Regions from separate parts of the Homo sapiens genome. Here regions 2 and 3 are each reported to be linked to region 1. The links are microRNA targets in miRTarBase. Many come from high-throughput screens and were not tested one by one. Region 1 holds a microRNA gene; each other region holds the end of a gene's coding sequence.

Evidence for each region. The annotated mature microRNA hsa-miR-4510 reads UGAGGGAGUAGGAUGUAUGGUU and lies in region 1 at 5,109-5,130, shown strand. An mRNA with a match to its seed (bases 2 to 7 or 8) in the 3' UTR can be bound and repressed. Matches are read on the target gene's strand: a 7mer-m8 pairs with bases 2 to 8, a 7mer-A1 pairs with bases 2 to 7 and ends in A, and an 8mer does both.
Region 2: miRTarBase lists TMPRSS5 as a target of hsa-miR-4510. Seed matches in the 3' UTR shown: 7mer-m8 at 6,033-6,039.
Region 3: the mRNA of TRIM67 is a reported target of hsa-miR-4510. Seed matches in the 3' UTR shown: 7mer-m8 at 5,534-5,540, 7mer-m8 at 5,530-5,536, 7mer-m8 at 5,399-5,405, 7mer-m8 at 4,819-4,825, 7mer-m8 at 3,753-3,759, 7mer-m8 at 2,803-2,809 and 1 more.

What each region holds. Positions count from the first base shown.
Region 1 is chr15:35,921,755-35,928,950 of GRCh38, forward strand. MIR4510 (microRNA 4510) reads left to right here and starts at 5,102; the gene lies at 5,102-5,169. All of the region lies in intron 1 of LOC105370766 (a long non-coding RNA gene), which reads left to right.
Region 2 is chr11:113,681,679-113,688,874 of GRCh38, forward strand. TMPRSS5 (transmembrane serine protease 5) reads right to left here. Exons shown (of 13, transcript NM_030770.4): 13 at 5,872-6,596. The coding sequence ends at 6,582. It overlaps LOC107984390 (a long non-coding RNA gene), which reads right to left and starts at 4,832. Exons shown (of 3, transcript XR_001748391.2): 1 at 1-4,832.
Region 3 is chr1:231,214,482-231,221,677 of GRCh38, reverse strand. It overlaps TRIM67 (tripartite motif containing 67), which reads right to left. Exons shown (of 10, transcript NM_001004342.5): 10 at 113-6,303. The coding sequence ends at 6,238. Among named protein-coding and RNA genes, the nearest start is that of FSAF1, 23 kb to the left of the region's middle. RefSeq lists enhancers at 351-851, 4,002-4,501, 6,193-6,302, 6,216-6,717 and a silencer at 5,033-5,092.

The DNA of each region.
Region 1 (7,196 bases):
TTTGTCTACCAATGTCATGGCAACTAGTTAAGTTGGAGTATGGGGAGTAGATAGGGAAGACCAGGTAGACTGTTAACTTGGTATCACGTAGAGCCCTTTGATTAGCAGATTCTCTTCTCATATATCCCCTGCCCCTCTCCTTAGTAAAGCATAACTACATACATACATACATTTATATATAAATATATCAGCAAAACAAAGTAAAAATGTTTATGTATTATTAATATTGTCATCATGAAGATACCACATCAGGATGAGATATTGTGGAGGAGTAAACTTAAAATTTCTTATTATCGACAATATTTGTCATAAATTATTCTATTCATGGTTACTACATCAGTGGTATTACTATTCCCCCAAAATGATAAAGCAATTTACTAGTATTTCCTTGGAATTTTAAGATCAAAAGCTCTAGAGATGCATCTTTCTATTTTACCCGTGAAACTTAAGACAGCAAAAAGAATAACGAAACCAAAGGGTGACAGGCAAAGTTGGAAGCCTCAATGACAACTTTTATAATTTTTAGTTATAGCTCAGGAGAGAGATGGAACTTCTGCAAGATGGTATTTATAGATGAGAAGGCCAGGATATTTGTATTAGTAAGCTCAGAAAAGTATAGAAATATTCTAGAAGTCCCCTCTCTTCATCTGTCTGCTCATTACTTATTTTAGAAATAACAAATATCTATGATTTTGGCTGTGTAAATAAATGAGTAAGGGTTTGAAATCTTGTGATTCCAATATTTTTCACAATCCATTTGCACTATTTCAGGTAATTCCTTTCTTTATGTACAAGCAACCTCCACCACAGTGCCCTAAGGCACAATACGGTATAGCCATTCACACATGCACGGTCAACCTGGTTTCAGCCTATCAGAGCAAGATCAGGAAGGATTAGACAAATTTAGTTGTATACACTTACACAGGTTCAAAGCCAGTCTTATGCAGAGCTGGATAGGCAATTACCTATATGATGACATTTTATGTTACTACAGGACATAATGTCCAGGAAACAAAGGAATAGGAATTCTGTTTTTTGGTTACTGCCTTGGTTGAACATTAAAATTAGCATTGTTCTGTGCACTACCTTTGTTAATAAAAGTCCTAAGGAAGTTGTAATCATGGACATGTAGGACATTTGGGAAGTTTTGTGTAATGCAATAACTGAATGATTAGGGCAGGAGAAGGAATAATTACCAAATCCTTAATTTCTAGGCTGGTGGTACCCTTGATTTTACTTTTTGCAATTATATGTTTCAGAGAACATTGTTTAAACCATAGTGTTCAGATTTCTGTATTAAGATAAAAAAAGGGAAATTACATCTAGATGAGAATTGTAAGTAAGCATTAACTGTGAGTTATCATTTTCCTTACATTATCTCATTTGACTACTCAAACAATCTTACGAGATAGGTATTATCTCCATTGTTCAGATGAAAAGGTAGTCATAGAGATTAAATATTTATTAGAAGTCACACAACTAGTAAGCAGAAGTTGTGTGAACCTAGCTCTGTGGATGCAAAATAATGTACTGCTTTGCAAGACCTGTAGCATAATTTACTTATGTTCTATATGTGGGTAAAATTGTTACATTATCACTGGTAAAATACAAAACCAAATATAAAGAATAATTGCATTTTGATTTTTGGACCTGCCAAGACATACATCCTCAAACTCTTTTGCATCAGAAATGCCTGGGAGAATTGTTTTGTTTGTTTTGTAATTAAAATGCACCCTATTGTCTCTTCTTCCTTGATGATTGCCAAAAATTATAGTTTAAAAATACAACGAGGTGATATGAACATGTTTGAATGTTACCATTATATTTTTATTACACGTAAACAATACATTGTGTTTCCAAAATAATATACTCTAGAAAGTAAACTTTTCTTTCTTCTTTCCCATAAGTGACATCCTTCTGATATGCAGAGACTTTTAACTTGGGTACCAAACCATAATGGTACAAATAGAGGTATTTCAAGAAGTTGCTAAAATTGTTACATTGTAGAGCAGAATCTGATTTTGTGTACATGTTCCTACAGAAAATTCAGAACACATCTTAACCCCGTTATTCTTATTGTGTCACTTTAAAAGTTAGAGAATTGGTTTAGTAACAAACCTAGAAGTTTCCATCATATCCTCTTAAGCATCTGTGGTTCTTGCACTCAGCCATCTCAGCATGCTCATGCCAAAGCTCAAGACACGAGATCCTTCCAAATATGAAGAGTAAAATGAGGCTTATCACCTTCGTAAAGATTAATTATTTTTCAACCAATAAAACAGACTTTTTCTTTATCTAATGGGCTTCATCCATCATAGTACATGATAGATAGTTAATACTTTACTTTCAGGGAAACTGCAGCTTAGAGCAGTTTTACTAGTTCAGTTCAGACAGTGGTTTACCTCTAAACTTCTATAGCTAGGGCTAATAGTGTCTGATGAGCTCATCTGCCTGGAGAAAGAAAGAACAGACATAAGAAAGTGCTACCCCAAATACTTAAAATTGCCTTGCTGTGGATTTGAAACAACACAGGTTGTAAAAGCACAAAGTGCCAGACAGCTTACATACATCTTTTAGCACATTTCAAAGACAAAACAACATGTGCGGAATCAAAGGCAGGAAAATCATTATGTAAAATATCACCTTTCCCCAGTAAATGTTTTCTATTGAACTGCTGAAAATTCTTCTCAGTAAGGAAGATAGAAAGCCAGGGCAACCCCTCTGCAGGCACAGCAGAGTGAGGTCCACCCAAAAATTCTCCACTGCCATGGGCTGCAACCTTAAGACCCTGCATGACTTGTTAGAGATTTAGATTTATCTGGCTCTCTAGTGTCTTATTGCATAATTTCCATTACTTTATTACCCACCATTCGCCCTTCAATAGTTCTTTTCATGTGTTTTTTGTTGTGGCTTTGCTTATGTGGGACAGTCCATGTTACAAGTTTTCTCTATTATTTATATATGAAAGTCTCCTCATGAAAACACCATCATATATAGCAAAGCAAACTATATTAGAATTCCATAATAACATGGCTTTGTATAAATTCTGATACCCTCTTGGTCATAGTTATTCATAGGTCAAATGAAACAATGAACTAATTACACATTGATATACTAGACTGAGGCTGTGTTTCAACCAGGTTGACCTTGTCTGGGGAATACATGCAATCAGGGGCATGTAAGTCCCCTCTGAAATACAACTGAAGATGGTATGATCACCAATGATTGGAAAGGTAGGATCACTGGGAGAAGTCAAGGTTGAGTCTTGGATGTTACAACTAATGTCTATGATTTCCATAGTTCAGAATAAAACCAAGGATAGCGTATCAATCAGGACAACAATAGTCACTCCAGATAGGAGGAATTTTAATAGAGGGAGGTGCTGAGAAGCCAAACAAATGATAATAAGGCAACCCAGACATTACAGTAGCAAAAAGCCACTATCATCCCTATGTTTGAGAGTTAAAGGGAAAAGACTGTTATTGGATTGCCTGGCTCTGGGGCCACAGACAGAAGCCAAAACCATTTCAGGTCTGCCTGTCAGTAGCTTGAACCAGTAAGCAAAGGACACCTATCCAGATTTGCAGCCATAGAAGAGGTTGAAACCTGAGACTATCTGGTTTAAATTAACCTTTCTTGTTACTGGCAGCTACTAATAGATTGCACTTAATCAACTATCGCATCTCTCATAGAGAAGGAGTCATGACCATGTTTTCCTTATTTATTATGCCATCGTGCAGCGGAGAGTGACCCAGAGGTTTATTCTTCTTATGTGACAAGACTGATGAAATCAATCTCACACCATTTTACACTTGTATCTATTGTAATTTTTATACATATTAAAATAAATACCACACACCTGAATTAGGGTAAATGGCTTGCTTATTCGTCCTCTGAGGTGGGCTTTTGTTTTTCCTTACTAGAAAGTCTGAGCGTGTTTCGTTTCTCATATTTGTTTAAATAAAAAAGAAATTTTAATGATACCATGAATCCTCATGATCAGGGAAGAACGATGTGTCAGTTCACCTGATGACCTCACCAGCAAGTAACAGAAAACAAGCAAAATGACTCATACAATGAGGGCTTTGTTATCTTTATTGTCTGACAAGTCCTGTTGTATGTTCCAAGATCACTGACTTCAAGGGCTCAATGAATGGCTCAGGGATCCATTTCATTTCCACATTTTGTTCTGCCATCTTTGGAATGTTCGTGTTTGTCCTTACGTGGCCCCTCACATCCCCAAGTTACTCCAACCTTATATCCTCAACAATAACTTCCAGAGGTGAGAAGATAGACCATCTCTTCCTTATGTTCTTTCATAAAAGTCAGAAAAACTGTACTAGAAATCCACCCCAGACTTCCCCTCACATTTTACTGGACAGAATGACATTACATCATGGACAAGAGAATGGAATTTACATGAGTCATTTCAACCAGAGTTGATATGCACCTTCAGCTGAGAAGGGACTTAGTCTCCTTTGAAGGATATGGCCTACCAAGACTTGAACAAAATCAACTCTTACACAGCACTTACAACAAGGGAGGCACTATTCTAAGAGTTATTAAACATACATAAAGAGATATAGAAATGTGTATTAAATCATTTAATACAAAAATTATATGAGGTGGTTATTATCTATAACTTATCAAGATATTAAGTAACTTAAGGGCCAGGCACAGCGGCTCATGCCTATAATCCCAGTACTTTGGGAGGCAGTGGTGGGAAGATGGGTTGAGGCCAGGAGTTTGAGTCCATCCTGGGCAACATAGTGAAACCCCATATCTACAAAAAAAATTAAAAATTAACCAGGTGTGATTGTGTGGACCTGTAGTTCTAGCTACTCAAGAGGCTGAACCTGGAGGATCCTTCGAACCCAAGAGTTTGAGGGTGCAGTGAGCTATGGACATGCCAAAGCACTTCACCCTTGGTGAGACAGCAAGATAACCTTGTATTAAATAAATAAATTAATTAATTAATTAATTAATTAATTAATTAAGGTCACACTGTTATTCAGTAGTGACAGCAGGGTTGTAACTCAGGTGATCTGGCCCCAGAGTTGTTGCCTTTAAGATGAATACCAGGTTGCCTCTGTGGAATAGTGTGTATGTGAGGGAGTAGGATGTATGGTTGTTAGATAGACAACTACAATCTTTTCTCACAACAGACAGAGCCTGTCATTAAGTAGGCACTCAGAAATGTTCATGGAATAAGCAAAAAAAAAAAAAAAGAAGAAGAATGAATGAATGAATATACCCTTTGATAGCCTCCAATACAGTGTCTTGTATGTAATAGTCATTCAGTGGTTGCTTAGTTGATGGTGTCTCATTGTGTGTCTATTGCAGCACAATTTAAGTAGAGAATTTAGGATATGCTACAAACTGGTCTATCATTTTCCTTAAGATAAATGAGGGGTAATGCTCAGAGAGAGGGCAGTTACCCATGACTGAAGTGGGAGAGACTGACATTCAGGAGTTTGATTTGGGAAACCCTAGAATTCTAGGAAGTGATTGCTGTTTATAAAAATGCAAATTGGTCCTGTTTAAACTTGTCATTATAGAAAAACCTAGCAAGGCTCATATCCTATGCTAAACTCCGCTACAATCTCTATCCAGAAGATGTCTGACCATTTTATATTGTTTTCCAACCCTTTCTTGGTTTGTTCGCTGGAGAGAATCCATCTCATTTACCACAACTCCAAAATCCCCCTGTGTGGAACACAAGACACATCTATGTCCTGCTCACATTGTTTTCTTGAGAGCAGAGAGATGTCAATTGGCTTGGTCCTCTTTTATATGCAATTAGATACAGCTATCATATATTACCTTGTGACAGATATGCATTGTCTCATTCAATATTAAGTAGGGATCCACATGTAGCCATCCACAGTCGTAGACCTGGATATATCTTGTTTCTACTTGGAGAAATTCAATGAATGGCAACATGGATTTACAAATCAATATTAAGAGGTAATTATTCTGCTTACAAATAAATTTGTCAGCTTCCACATCTGTTAGCAGGTCAGAGATTATTTGAGTTCACATTAGAGTGAAATACATAGAAAAGAAACTTAAAGTTTGTATATTATAGAAGATCATTAGGAAATGCCTTCCTTTGACTCTAGAGCCAAAGGACTAATCTAACAATCAATGTCATCAATAACTTTCTCTACAGTATTTAATGTCAATTATTGATTCCCAGAAAAGCAAACCCTGTTCAAAATGTGTTATTTTGATTTATAAGCAATTCATTCACCATATTATTCTCCCTGACCCGCAGTAAGCAAATAGGCATCAAGCCCATGGTTTCCTAGTTATTAAGAATGATAATGTCTCTTACAGATTATCCAATCCAGACCTCTTGTTATATAGACACAGTTAGAAGGCCCAGTTACTATCCCAAGGCTACATAGCTAATAAAATATACAGCCAGAAGGAGAATTTTGGTCTAGAGCTCTTTCCTGTCCTCACAATTAAATAATCAATTTCTTTACATGTCAAAGTCACTACATCTTACAGTTCAGTGCTTACATAACTTTATACCATGCCTTAAATAATATTCCCAAAATACTTATTTGTATTCTTTATATCTGCTTTGATTCCAGAGTACAGAGAGCTCTTGGAGGATGTGATAGATCATATTTTCCAAAGATGGTCACAATATAATTTGCTACTTTACACACTCTTCTTCATTGTGATTTTGTCCTTACACCATTAGAAGTTTATTTTTCCAACCACTTTGAATCTGAGTAGGCCATGTGATTGCTCTATTCAATAATATACAACTGAGGTTCTGCATATGGCCCTTAAGTAGCCCAGCAACTCCTGATCCCTACATTTTGGAATATTTGCTCATAGGACATTTCTTCCAAGAACCCAGTCTCTGCAGTGAGAAGCAGGAACCATACAACAAAGCCGTGATTAGCTGCTCCAGCCTAGCTAAGCTTTCAAAAACTGACAGCTAGTATCAACTACCAGACATGTAAGCGTACCATATTGAACTTCTAGCCCAGCTGAGCTTTTGGGTGACTGCAGGCCTAGATGACAGCTGCCTGTAAGTGCTTGAGAGACCTCAGGTGAAAACCAACCAGTTGGGCACAATCAACCCCCTGGCCTTAAGAAATATTAAATAAGTTTTGTCTTAATTGCCTGAAGTTTTAAGGTGGTTTGTTAGACAGCAGTAGACAACTGGAACACAG
Region 2 (7,196 bases), not on the chromosome of region 1:
ACTCCTCCCAGCCTCACCTTCGCCCTCCACCACCCACCTGGGTCCCTCCAGAAAACTTTGCAAGGTCTGACTTTCTGCCTGGGCCTCAGCAGTCCTCTCAACTGTTCCAGCCCCCTCCTGGATCCACTATACAAATACAGGCTCACTGCCAAGAAGTGAGAACAATAAATCTTCCCTCATTCTTTTATTCATGTCCTCACCTCTGCAGGGACTGCTGAGGAAAAACAAACCCCACAAAATCCCTGTGGGCTCTGGCAGTCTGGCAGTCTCTTCTTTGCTCCTCTCTGATGATCTTTGGAAGGCAGAGGCCAGGAGAAGAAGCCCATCCAGCTCCCGTACGGGCGGCAGGCCCTTCTCTTCCTCCTCCTGAGTGGGCTCAACCACTCGAAGCCAGCACCTATAACATGCTGAGCCCGCACCGGGCTCTAGGAACCAGAAATCAGAGTGACCAGGGGAAACTGGGACATCGATATGCATGGCTTGCCGGAGTAACACTACACCTGACTCACCTTCCTAGCCTCCCGCAAATTGCCAGAGAAGTTCTGGGCCTAGGAGGGCCAGGCTGTTTGCGCAAAACATTAGGTAAGGTGAGGGAGGGCTGCCCTGGCTGCAGGCTCAGAAGCTACCACAGGGAAGTGGCAACCAGGGAAGCTGCAGGCCCTGAGGAAGGAGGGGCTCTCTCCTTAAGGGCCTCCAGGGCAAGGCAGCATCTGCTGGTGTCACAGCCTTTGCAAAACAGTTCAGACCTTGAGAATTCCCAGGACCTTCCTCCTCCAACTCTGTGCACCAGGGAGTGCTTCCTCAAACTGAGGAAGGATAGTAGGATTCGGGGATGCACTGAATTTTGCAGAACTCCATTTATACAGAAGAGATGCATTAGACTTAGGGTGAGCCACTGTCCTAGTTTGTCCAGGACTGAAAAGTTTCCCAGGACATAAGCTTTTCAGTGCTAAAACCAGGACAGTCCTGGGCCAACTTGGAAGATGGGTCACCCTAACAGAGGGGCTGTGGGAAAACCGATCCTCCCTCCCTGAGCCTGGCATGTGGCTGGGTCCAGAGCAGGGTTTGGATCCCAGATGTTTTCTAGCGGTTCTGCTAACCCACAACTTTCCTCACTATTCTAGGCATGAAGAAAGGCTGGAGGAAGGAGTGGGTCCTCATGGCCAGCTTAGGAGCTGTCAAGGAAAACAGAAAGAAGGAAAGCGTTCACGGTCTTCGTGGTAGAGAGGAAATTCCTTTGGCTGCCTTTGCGGAGCTGGGGCCCATGAGGCTTCAGACAGAGCCTGGGGTATCAGAAAGTGAGCTGGAGAGCACCTAAAAAACTGCCAGATTGAGGGGCTCAACCTTTCCTTGAATCCTTGCCCAGGGTACAAATGCTAGGTACAGCAACATGGCGAAAGCTGCCTTCCAAGTCTTTTGCCCAGTTTCTATTGCTCCCATGGACCCAGAGGGCTCCCAGGGACGGCAGCCTTGCAGTGCTGTGAAGCTATAGCAAGCTGACTTCTGTAGATCTGTCCCAGGGAACAGGCTGCTCCTAAAGGTTATCCAAACTGGAAGTGGTGGGCAGACATCTCAAGAGGCAAAAGAAGTTTGAGTTAAAGCTGGTCTAACAAGGCAGATCCCGTGGAGACCATCTTGCCCAGACTTCTAAGTTGACAGATGAGAGACCAAAATCCAGGGAGACTGAGTCACCTGCTCGAGCAGCACATTCCCACGTGGGATGTGATGGGACTCTGCATCTAGAACCATTGTTTCCTACTATCAGATGTCACAGCCAGAGGTTCCTTGGAAGGGAGAAAGCTCCGAGATGATGCCAGCCTTTTGCAAGTCTCTGCCTTCCTGGAGCCCACGTGCTGTTCTGGGAGAGGCTAAGTAGCAAGGACTCTGTGCCTCTGCAGCCACGATTTCTCTCTCCATTCTGTTTGATTCCCCAGCTTGGTTCCCTCCAGCACCACCTCCAGGTGAAAGCCTCCACAGATCCCCCTGGAGTGCTCCACCCTGGGGAGACTCCGAGCAGGCAGGCCTGCTTGGCCTCTCTCTTTCCCAGCCTTGAATGTATGAGAGAGACCAGCCTCAGCCCTCAGGAGTAGGAAGCTGCTGCCTACCTACTTCCTTACGAACCTGCCTAGAGGTGGAGGGATTTAACACACAGTTGAAAAAGTCATTAACAACACCTGGCTCTGATTAGTTTAGTAGGAAACAGAGTCCTGAGGGTGCGGCACACCCTGAGTGTTCACTGCAGCATGTCTGCTAGGGAGGTATAGATGGGGCTCAGGCCCAGGATGCTGGACTGGAAAGTGGGGGCAGGTGAAGGTAGGTTTTCCTTTGAGTAGCTGTGGAGCAGCAAGAGGGTCCTGAGAGCATGGCCAGGAGACGGCAGAGTAGAGAGGAGAGAAGAAGCATCAGAGGGACTTGGGAAAACATCTGACAGCTACCAAACCAGTTCTAAGCATTTATAGCATTTCCAGTTTTGTCCTATTGTGGGTGAGCCAAGCACCTCCAAAAAGAAAATATAAGAAAGAGCCTGAGAAATGTTCCTGAGGAATGGCAGGGCCGCCCCTTGTTCCCAGAAACCCTTTTAGGAAAAGCACGACTCCACAGAAGGTGTCAGGAGGGGAGAACCTGAATCTGATGCTAGAGGGATGCTGAACCCTCTAGCATCCTTGAGACCCCACAAGCACACAGAAGAAGAGGGAAGGGATCTGCACCCATCATGGCAGCCAGGAATGACCCTCTTGGAACATCTCAGGAGGCTCGAAAGCTCTGCCCAAGCAGGTGGGATGCTGAATCCTACCGGAGGAAGGCAGAGGTTTCCCACATACAGAATTACTCTGACTTCTGTAACAACAGGCTCTTGGAACTCCCTGAGCAATTACTACCTCCCCACTCAGCTCTCTGCCTGGCTGGCTACTAGTAATTTATTGCAAATAAGTCTCATTTCTCCAATAAGACAGTCGGCTTTTCTACCTCCGAATTCCCTACAGAGCTTAAGATAGCTGGGAACCCAGCTGGTCCTCATTAAGGCCCTTCTGAACCCGAATCTTCCCAACCTTCCTGGCCCCACCTCCACCCCTTCATTCCAGGAGCAGGCTCAGGGGAACGGAGCTGGCCAGGCCACTCGCTTCCCTTCCCTTTCCAAAGAGCTGGACTGGCAGATGCTAATAAGGAAAGTGAGAGATTCTGCATCTGCAGATCTGACTGGTAGCCTGGCCAAAGAGAACAAGAACTTCTGTATAGGTAAGCAAGGAATCTTTATTAGCAAATTCTCTAATTAGGGTACCCTTTATAGCTCTCCTATAGGAGATATTCATTTGTAAGTTTTAGTCAAGACCGTGAATCTCAGGGAGAACTGAAAATTTCTAAGAATATTGTTGAGAAGGGTCTTTGGCAGGAGCCTCTTAAATTCCTGGGTTTTGGTTCCTTCATCTATAAAAAAGTAGGTGTGGGAGGCCGGGTGTGGTGGCTCACGGCTGTAATCCCAGCACTTTGGGAGACCAAGGCAGGTGGATCGCTTGAGGCCAGGAATTCAAGACCAGCCTGGCCAACATGGCGAAACCCCATCTCTACTAAAAAAAAAAGTACAAAAAAAATTAGCCAGGCTTGGTGGTGCACACCTGTAGTCCCAGCCACTCAGGAGGCTGAGGCATGAGAATCGCTTGAACCTGGGAGGCAGAAATTGCAGTGAACCAAGATCATGCCACTGCACTCTAGCCTGGGTGACAGAGTAAGATTGTCTCAAAAAAAAAAAAAAAAAGGTAGGTGTGCCAAGGCATTACTATAAGCAGGTGACTTACACCAGGTGACCTGAGCAAGTACCTTCCAATTCTATTCTTCTGTGCAATACTGGACCATCTCATTCATTCATGTGCATGACAGTAATGTGGATTTAGAGTAAAAAGACCCACGGTTGACATCCTGGCTCTAGTGCTTACCAGCTGGGTGGTCTTGGGGGAGTCACTTAATCTCTCTGAATTAATTTTCTTATCTGGAAAATGAGGACAATAATAATAACATCTGCACCACATAGATTTGTGAGCTCCCACATATGGGCATGTTTTCTAAACTGTAAAACACTATTCAAATGTTACTGAGTATTGAAAGACCTTGATGGCTGTAATTTTTTTAAACTTCCCTTTAAATATGCAAATGATTATGATTGACATCAGAAACACAAAAAAGATCACAGCTGCTGGATTTGCTGTTAACTTATCCCTGCCCAGGGGGATCTACTACCCCATCAGTGCCTCCTGAGGCAGGGACTTAAGGGAGCTGGGCAGTAAATGTTGATCCCAGGGTAGAGGCTGAAGGTCTGACCTCCAGGGACACAGGGCGAGGCTATTTTGCCATTCAGCAGAACTTCTCCCACGTTGCTTCTACAGTTTGACAGCAGACTCCCAGCAACTACTTCCCTGGTTAATAAACTGGCAGTAAATTGAAACCTTCATTTTCTAGTGCACTTCATGTAAAGGGAGCAGACCCTCTAGAAATGAGTAATCATTTGTACAACTCCTCAAAAAATATGCTGATAAACTCACAAAGTTCTGTTATTGCTAAACACTAGTTGCATTTCCTTGGGTAAGCACCATAAAAAATTCACTGCAGTTTTTAGAAAGAAGATGCCAGTCACATTTTAACTGCTAGAGAGGAGAGAGTTGGGGAGAGGCTTACCCAAGGAAATGCTAACTGGGCATAAAACTCAAAAAGAGAGGCCAAGTCAAAGGCCCAGTTCCAAAACAAGAGCTAAGAAGGAGAGATGGGTCCAGGTGCGGTGGCTCACACCTGTAATACCAGCACTTTGGGAGGGCGAGGCAGATGGATCACCTGAGGTCAGGAGTTCGAGACCAGCCTGGCCAACGTGGTGAAATCCCGTCTGTACTAAAAATACAAAAAATTAACCAGGCATGGTGGCTGCAGTATGCCTGTAATCCCCGCTGCTCGGGAGGCTGAGGCAGGAGAATTGCCTGAACCCGGGAGGCAGAGGTTGCAGTGAGCCAAGATGGCACCACTGCACTCCGGCCTGAGTGACAGAGCAAGACTTCGTCTCAAAAAAAAAAAAAAAAAAAAAAAAAGGGGAGAGAGAAGGAGAGATGGGCCTTGCAGGGAAACCAGACCTTCCCAAGAGAGCATTGACTTAAGTGCTTCTCAGACTCAAGATCTCAGAGCACCTGGATGGCTAAGGCTTTTCATTGCAGATCATGACATGTAGATTTTTTTTTTTTTTTTTTTGAGACAGAGTCTCACTCTGTCACCCAGGCTGGAGTGCGGCTCGGCTCACTGCCATCTCTGCCTCCCAGGTTCACGCCATTCTCCTGCCTCAGCCTCCCGAGTAGCTGGGACTACAAGGCGCCCGCCACCATGCCTGGCTAATTTTTTGTATTTTTAGTACAGATGGGGTTTCACTGTGTTAGCCAGGATGGTCTCGATCTCCTGACCTCGTGATCTGCCGGCCTCGGCCTCCCAAAGTGCTGGGATTACAGGGGTGAGCCACCGCGCCCAGCCAACATATAGATTTAACAAATTTAAAGAATTAAACAAACCCCATTTCTACAAAAGATACAAAAGAAGAATTAGCCGTGTGTGGTGGCATGCACCTGTAGTCCCAGCTACCAGAGAGGTTGAGGTGGCAGGCACTGAGCCCACAACATCGAGGCTGCAGTGAGCAGAGATGGTGCCACTGCACTCCAGCCTGGGCAAAACAAATAAGCACAAACCAAAATTCTCAAGTAGATGAACAGGAGTCAGCACCAAAGCTTCAATATGTATAGAAGATAGAAGGAAAATTGTAATTCTACCCTGTAATATGTGTTTGTGTCTGTCTGTCTGTCTGTCTGTCTTTGTGCGAGTGAGAGAGAGGAGACAGAGAAAACTGGACCAAGACCATATATCACTTTAATAACAGAACTCCTTGGACCAGTTCACAGAACTGTCATTTAAAACCAATGTCCTAGACCAACTCCAACCTTCTTGTTTTCCAGTGTACCCACCCCACACAGGGCCAGCCACAGCCAGGTGAGAACAGGAAGGGGAGTGGAGAGGGAGAGTGGAGAGGGTCCTGACTCCCATAGGCTTCATCTGGGCTGGCCCAGCCTTGACCCCATCTGCCCAGGAGCCTCTCAGCCATGGAGTCCTCTAGGGAGGCACTTAGCCCACCTAGAGCACAGGAAAAAGGTGGGACGGGGGGCACCTCCCAGCACCCTCCCAAAAGACTCACACAGGGGCAGGGAGGGGAGAGGGCAGAAGGGCAGGCTTCCTGCTGCTTCTAGCAGCCTCTTCATCTCCAGCTCCTACCTCTCTCCTCCCCCTCATCCCTCAGCAACCACAGCATGCCCAACCAAGTCCCAGCCTCTCTTCTGTCATTGAGTCTCTAGTGAGAAAGAGGACTCTGAAATCAGGGCCCAAGAGGAGAGACCTGTTGGCTGGGTGGCTGGCCAGTGGGTAGTGACTGTTCCTCACACACAGTAGTAGGAGGTCCATGCGTTCTGTGTCGGAGGCTACTGCCTCTCCTCCATTAGTGGAGCTGCTGGAGGCCCCAGGAAGCATGAGGCAGTGGTGTGCAGTGAGACTGGAGGAAACAGCAGGACTCAGAGGAGGGAGTCCTAGACCAAAAGGGAAAGGAACTGATTCACAGCATGGCTCTACACTAGCCAAGCGACTTTTATTTTAGTAAATCACTTAACCATGCAGGGCCTTGATTTTCACTTCTATCAAATGAGGCTAAAAATATCTGCTGCTCAAGATTTTTTGTAAGATTTCTTTGAGAAGATCAATACATACATTCCCTGTAAACTCCGAATGTATTATCTACCAACCCCCACCCCTGCCCAACCTTAGAGGAAGATGCTTTTCATGATCATGCCCTAAATTTGTAAAATACTTTAGGTAAATAATGTTTTTGTTTTGTTTTGTTTTTGAGACAGAGTCCTGCTCTGTCGCCCAGCCTGGAGTGCAGTGGCACGATCTCAGCTCACTGGAACCTCCGCCTCCCAGGTTTAAGCGATTCTCCTGCCTCAACCTCCCAAGTAGCTGGGTGCGTGCCACCATGCCCAGCTAACTTTTGTATTTTTAGTATAGACAGGGTTTCACCATGTTGGTCAGGCTGGTCTCGAACTCCTGACCTCGTGATCCGCCCACCTCGGCCGCCCAAAGTGCTAGGATTACAGGCGTGAGCCACCCCACCCGACCAGTAATGTGTTTTT
Region 3 (7,196 bases), not on the chromosome of region 1:
GACCGTGTGGCCTCCCCTCCTGTAGCCTCTGCCCTGTCTGCTGGGCAGTCAGGGCCAGTTGGGAAAAAGGCAGACCTGACCACGGAGCAGGAATTACAGACCACATCTTGTCTTTCTGTTGTTGGCAGTGTCAAAAGAATTTATTTCAAATCTGCTTAAGACTGTGGTAAAACTCAGGTTTTCCAAAAGGTAATACAGAAAGTTCAACTAACCCCCAAAGACCAGAAAACACAGTGTTTGCAATTCAAAAAATACAAACGCTTGTGGATACCAATACAAAAATTAGAAAAAAGTTGCTTTCCTTACCACTCCCCGCTACCCCCCGTGTTTTCAGTGGAACATCCACAGCAATAGGACCAAGAGCTGCCACCAAATACCAACAACGAGTGACCGAAAGTGGATGTGATGGGGGAAGGGGAGGGAGGAGAAATGGGGATAAAGAAAGGCAAGAAAATTGGACTTCTGTCGACGGTCAAAACAAGGACGCGAAGCTTTTTGTTTCTTGTTAAATCCCTTTGCCAACGTTAAACAAACACCTCTCATGCTTAATACAACAGCTTAGTGCCAACGCAGCAATCCTACATCATGCATTGAATGTTTTCTGCTTTGCCCGCTCCCCACTTCTTCTGGGTGCCGAGAAAGCCTGGGGCTCTGGGTGTCTGGTTTCCAGGGCTAGGAGGAGTTGGAGAGGCTTCCCCGGCTGGGTCTCACCCAGTAAGCACCTGACATGTTCCTGCTACTGCAGTTGCAAGCAGTCACCTTCCCGAACCTGAAGCCTGGTTTTGGCCTCTCCTCAGAGCTTTACCCGAGGGCCTGGCCTGGTCTGCAGTGCCCGCATCACCGGCCCACAGGTCCCTAGGCCTTTCCCAGGACTGTGCTCCTTGAGAGAAGAGCGATGGATCCGGACGAGACTTCCCTGGAGGTCTCAACTCCCAGCTCCTGACTGATGTCAACGTCAATCATTGAAAAAGCCAGGGCCTCCCCCAACCTGCATAGCTCGTGCTGGTGAAGCCCCAGCAGTCCCAGCGGTTATCAGTCATCTGAAAGTGACATGATGACCCACTAGCCCAACCAGCCTTCAAAACTTCGGCTCAGTTGCATCTCTTCGTGCTATCCACACTGGATTTCAAACCCATTCACACTGCAGAGACCCCTCGAAACAAAGGAGGCAAGCTGTGAGATGAGAGACCCCTTAGATACCAGAACTTAGGTAACAAAGAAGGCAGAGGCCTGGGTTAGTGTCCTTCCTTGGTTTAAAGGGGCTTCTGCTCACAGAGGCCTTGAGGCCTCGCAGTGAGACTGCTGACAGGTAGCCTGTTCATAGCACTCACACAGAGCGCCATTCAAACAGGCCTCGCCGGGAATGGAAACATATGGGGTGTTACTTTCTATGGTCATAGGAAACCTGTCTTAAAGGTCTATTTTACCCACTGGAGGCCAGGCAGCTCCTTGCCCTGGTCACAAGGAGGCTTGGATGGAAGACACTGGTCAGAGAACACTGGAACGCCCCCCACAGGTTTGAGTCACTGAATGGGAATCATTAGCTTAGATGCCAGAGATGAAAGACTGCACTTTTTTTCTTTAAAAATGTTATTGTATAATCCTCACAATACATCAGAGGAGGTAGGTTAGTATGACTAGTCTCATTTCAGGTGGGGATACTGAGGCACAGAAAGGATAAGAGATTGGCCCCCACTCATACCATGAATCACTATTAAAGCCAGGTTAAAAGAGGGAAGTAACCGAGGGCTGAACTTGGTGTCTGATCAATACATCCTGCCCGAAACCTGCCCTCATATTTTTACAGCCTAGATATTAGGTTAAAGCTGCAGGATCCTTTGATCTTCTGGGAGGAACTGCCAAAGAATGTGGTCAACAAACACAGCTACCGGCTCACTTGCAAAAGAAAAGTCCTGAAATTTTCCAGCATCACCATCTTGAATATTTGCCAATAAGATCTGTTAGATTTTTTTAAAAACCAATTGAGGGCCACAAACCCATTAAGAAGTTCCTGTTGCTTCCAGTAAAATGTGGCCAAGGAAAACAAAGGTAACGAGTTTTGCTTTCTAGGAAGTGGGGAGCGGGCAGGGGGCATCTTCAGTGAGTGAAAATTCAAGACCCAACAGGTTGGCATCTGTTGGAGGTGGCTCACCCCATTTTCCCCTACCTGCCCCCTGAAGACACATGGAAAATCCTGGGCTTGGGTATCAAGATAAAGGCTGGCAGCTTTGTCACATACAGGCTTTCTATGGAACAAAGCAGCCGGAGCGCCACAGTCCCTCTACAGATCCATGCATGACAAACCACTGGCATAACCTGGTGGTTCTCAACTTGTGGAGGCCCCCAGGAGATACCTAGCAATGTCGACAGATACTTTTGGTTGTCACACCTAACTTGGGGGTTGCTACTGGCAGATGATGGGTAGAGACCAGGGATGTTGCTAAACATCCTACGGCATACAGAACCTATCGCAAAATGTCAGTAGAGGTTGAGAAACCCTGGCGCCACCCCACGGGCTGTGCAGCAGTGTTCTTTAGCATTCACATGTTGACTCCCCCTAAGGATTGACCCTCCCTCACTACCTCAAAGCCAGCAGGTGGCCATGGGACCAGCAGCAGCCTCCTTGACACTGAACCACCTGCCCACCGGTGCCGAAACCCGCCTTCCCAGGGGGACCAAGCCTTTCGCTTGCAATGAGAATTAAGGCTTAAATGCAAATATCCCTGGAAGAAATACACAAAGATCCTGCATTCTGATCCTTTCCTGAGAGTGCTGTGGTGGGGCGGAGGGCAGGGGCACCAAGAGGGAGAGAAAGGGCGCAAAGAGGAGGGTGGGCCTGCCCCCAGCTCTCTTGGTGAGCTCCACAGAGCCTGCCCAGGCTCAATCCGGAAAGCACCACCCTCCTCAAACTTGGTGGGCCATAGGGCACCTAGGGCGCTGTTGCAACTACAAAGTACATATCAGGCTGAAGATGCAGCCTGGAAATATATACAGTTTTATAGTGTTTAGGTCAGTTACCTTGTGGGTCAGTATTACTGGTGTCCTCTTTAATTGGAATCATTATTTTCCCAAGGAGAACAGAGAGAGGAAAAGCAGGCTTTGGGGAAATACCTTCCCCTGCTTTGAATTAGGAGCTGGGATGCTATGTATGCAGTGAGGTGCTAGTGGATATTTTCGGAAGAGATTAATTTTAAAAGGAAAAGGCATACACTTTGACCAAGCTTGCTCACTAGCAAAGAACAACTGCAGAACCACATTACAGAGGCACTATTTACAATGCAATGGAACTCGACATTTTTAAACTACTTTGAATTCCTTTTTCACTGAAACTGCTTGATAGATTTACACCAAGTTACTCCTCAGCCAGCCCAACAAAAGCCTCATCTTGATATCATTTATATGTATGTACAAATGTGCCACCATGATGTAACGTGTTATGGAATTCGATGGTGGATGAGAATTCCATGACCTGTCTGTCATTTCTACTCTGAAACCCGGGACCTTCCTGGCCATGAGGAATTGATAAGTTCCTTCTTCACTTTTCTGATCCCTCAAAAACACAAGTGTGTGGCACGGACCTGTCGTTCTCTTTGAAGTCAGAACATTGAAGGTGTTTTGTGCTGAAGACAGGAGAGGTGTCTGTGAAGGAGAGCTGGATGCTGTCCCTGGCATCGGCCGTATTGCTTCTGGGCTCCTGGAGGAGTCAGAAAAGGGAGAATCCCAGCCCCCAAGCTCAGGGTGGCAGTGGGGAGGAGGGAGTCCTGGCTGCACCTCTCTGGACTTCAGGGAACTTTTTTCTGAAAGAGGCCACCGGATTTGAGGGCATTACCCTCCTGCACTTTCCACTTCTCTCCTGACCTGGATGCTGCTCCCTCAAAGGGGTTAGGTTCAGGGTAGCCCCAGGCAACTTGTGCTCCAATGATGGGCGATTCTTCTGCAGAGCTGGGGCCACCTGGTGACCTGGGCTGTGGTGATGGTGGAGGCTCCACAGCCTTCCCCAGGGCTCCCCTGTGAGAAGCTGCTGTCACCAGGCAGCCCTGCCTAGCCCACTCTCATTCTGGGGGCAGGGTGTAGGCCTGTTTTTTTTTCAGAAGAGAGCTAGACACTTCCCAAAGCTGATGGCTTCCTTGGCCCCAGGAAAGTGGTGGCTCCTCTTCATCCTCAATCTTTAGGGATCGTCTCCATGCTCCAAGCAAAGGCCACCCAGAGCTATGGCTAAGGATGAAGCTGCAGGGATATGGGAGACAGAGGCAGAGGTGCGGGCAAGGACACAGGGTCCCAGGTCTTGTGTGTCACCACCAAGAGCTCTGGACAGGGCTCTGGGATGGGAGGAGGAGACCCAGAAACCGCTTGGTGAGATGACAAGGAAGAGGCAAGACCTAGACTTCCATGAAGCAGATAGCTCCCAGGCTCCGCAGCAGAGACTGCAACACAGCACCGAGCAGCTCCTGGAGACGGGGCAGCTGGCCTTGCCGGCCACATCTGCAGAGACAGCGGACCAAGCAGCCTTGCAGACCAAGAGCATGAGCTTTGAGGTAGGATTGTCGGGCCTGCTGAGTGGAGGGGGGGTACCTGCATGGCTCCGGCAGGCAGTTACTCAGAAAGCAGGCGCGGTGTCTGAACAGGAAGGCAGAACCAAGGACGCACAGTTGGTGCTGGTGAATGGGCGAATTTTATAAAAATCCAGTCCAGCAAATTGACAAGTCACTTCTCAGCCTCAGAAATAAAATGCTTGACAAAATATATTCTTTTTAAAAGGAGAGAGAAATGTTACTACCAGGTGGAGCTGGAGGTGGCAGGTGACTGGGAAGATGAGAGGAGGGAGGAGAGGAAGGGTTCCCTGGGAACAAGAGCCTGGCAGGCTCAAAACCCCTGCCATGAGCTGTCTCTGAGAGGTGTGGATGAATCAATGTGGATCTCAAGGGAGAAGCCTGGTGTTTCCAGAGTCCTGCCCTGGCAGGTCAGACTCGGCACACCCAGTCTCACAGTGGGAAGCTGGGAGACAAGGTACCTGATACTGCCCTTCTATTTCCTGCCTTCCCCAGAGATCCCGCCCACTGCATCAGGGCAGAGCCGTCCCGGCCTGCCACAGGGGCCACTTGTGTTCATGATGCTTTCATAATGACAATAGGGTGGACTGACTAGAACAGGCTTTCCCAGGGTCTCCCATTTTAAATGCTTATGAGTCTGAGAGTGGTTCAGCTCAGAAGAGCAATCTGGATGCATTTTCAGTTAACTTCTTGGGCTGCCAGTTTCAGAAAGGAGCCATCACCAGGCGAAGACCTATGACATAGTTGTTAAAATTCTTGTGTTTTCACGTGGATTTAAGAACTAAGAACTGAGTGAATTAATTTTAGGAGACTGTCATGCCTGTGTGTGTGTGAGAGAGAGAGAGAAGGAGGGAGGGAAAGAGAGCGAAAGAGGGAAGAAAGAGGCAGGGATGGAGGAAAGTAAGAGAGAAGGAGGAAAGGAAGAAAGAGAGAGCAAAGGAGGGAAGGAAGGAGAGAGAGAAGAAGAGAGAAAGAGAAGGAGGGAGGGAGAAGAAATGAAGGATGGAGGAAGAGAGAGAGAGAACACAATTGGCTGATTAATAAAGGAAGCCATTTTAAAAGGTTCTAACACTTCAGTGAGAGAGGCAAAAGTCAAGCATGAATGATTAATGTCCCTTTCTATCAATCCTGCATTGGGTCTGCAAGTGGCAGGTGCTACTAAAGACTCTAGGACCAAGAAGCTAAAAGATAACTTTCTCAGCATGATGAGAATCTGCAATCTCGGGACTCTGAGGAGGCAAGGTCCCCACGGAGGGCCAACACCCGGGGCGTGGGATTACAGCGCAGCTCCTGACTGCCGCTCTCAGGAGGCCAGTCTCAAAGTCTACCTTCCTCTCCCTCCAAAAAAAGACAAGCTTTGAAAACAGATGGCAGGAAACATAGACATGAAGCCCGAATGCTGACTCCCTTGAGAAAGGTCCTTCTTGGGGAGTGTTCGTAATGTCTGGGTGGAATAAGGGTGACACACGTACCTTCCTTTGCCACTGACAGTGGCAGCTGTGAGCATGGCCCGTGGACCCATTCCCTGCGTCCCCAAGAAAATGTGTTTCTATGACACTCCACGCTGCCAGGTTGCACCCATGATTTGCATATCCTGCTTTTGTGGGTTATTTGAGCTTAGTGAGAATGGTGGGCGTTTTGCCTGTGAATGTCACTGTCACAGGCACAGTGCCGAGCTGGAGCGGGGCTAATTGCCTGACAGCTTTGGCCGCCCCAGGTTAGTCGGCACTTCCAATCCTGTGTGCAGGGTGACCTGGAAAAGAAGACAGGGCAAGTGAGGGTGGGAGAGGCTGCCGCAGGGACCCTGAGGGCTCTGACAGCACCGCAGACACCGGCAGGATCCCCTGCTGGCTCCAGGGCCATCCATGCAATAGCTCAGGGCTGCTGTGGACTGTTGAATATTACGTCCCCCAGTATTCCTAATTAAAGGCTATGTTGGTTTGCACCTCTTTCCTCATAATAAGAATCACCCAGCTGACTGGTTCCTCATTTTGCCAGAGCTGCCACAGCTGGGCAAAGTAGACGCCATCACAGGAGCACGGCTCTCACGCACTGGCTCCCGTGGTTACATATTTGTGTCTACTTTCTAGCCATGACCTTCTTTCCTTTCCTATTAAACCCATTCTATTAACTGTGAGGAATTATAGCCAACCTCTTATTTTTTGGATTAAAAAAAGCTTATCTGTTCATTGGTAGAGATGGTGTCTTGTTCATTCCCCAGGCTGGTCTCAAACTTCTGGGCTCAAGCGATTCTCCTGCCATGGCCTCCCAAAGTACTGGAGTTACAGGCGTGAGCCACCATGTCAGGCCAAGCCTAAGCCTATCTTTTTTTTTTTTTTTTTTTTTTTTGAGATGAAGTCTCGCTCTATCACCCAGGCTGGAGTGCAGTGGTGCGATCTCGGCTCACTGGAAGCTCCGCCTCCCGGGTTCATGCCATTCTCCTACCTCAGCCTCCTGAGTAGCTGGGACTACAGGCACCCGCTACCATGCCCAGCTATTTTTTTTTTGTATTTTTAGTAGAGACAGGGTTTCACCGTGTTAGCCAGGATGGTCTCGATCTCCTGACCTCGTGATCCGCCTGCCTTGGCCTCCCAAAGTGCTGGGATTACAGGCGTAAGCCACCGCGCCCGGCCATAAGCCTATCTT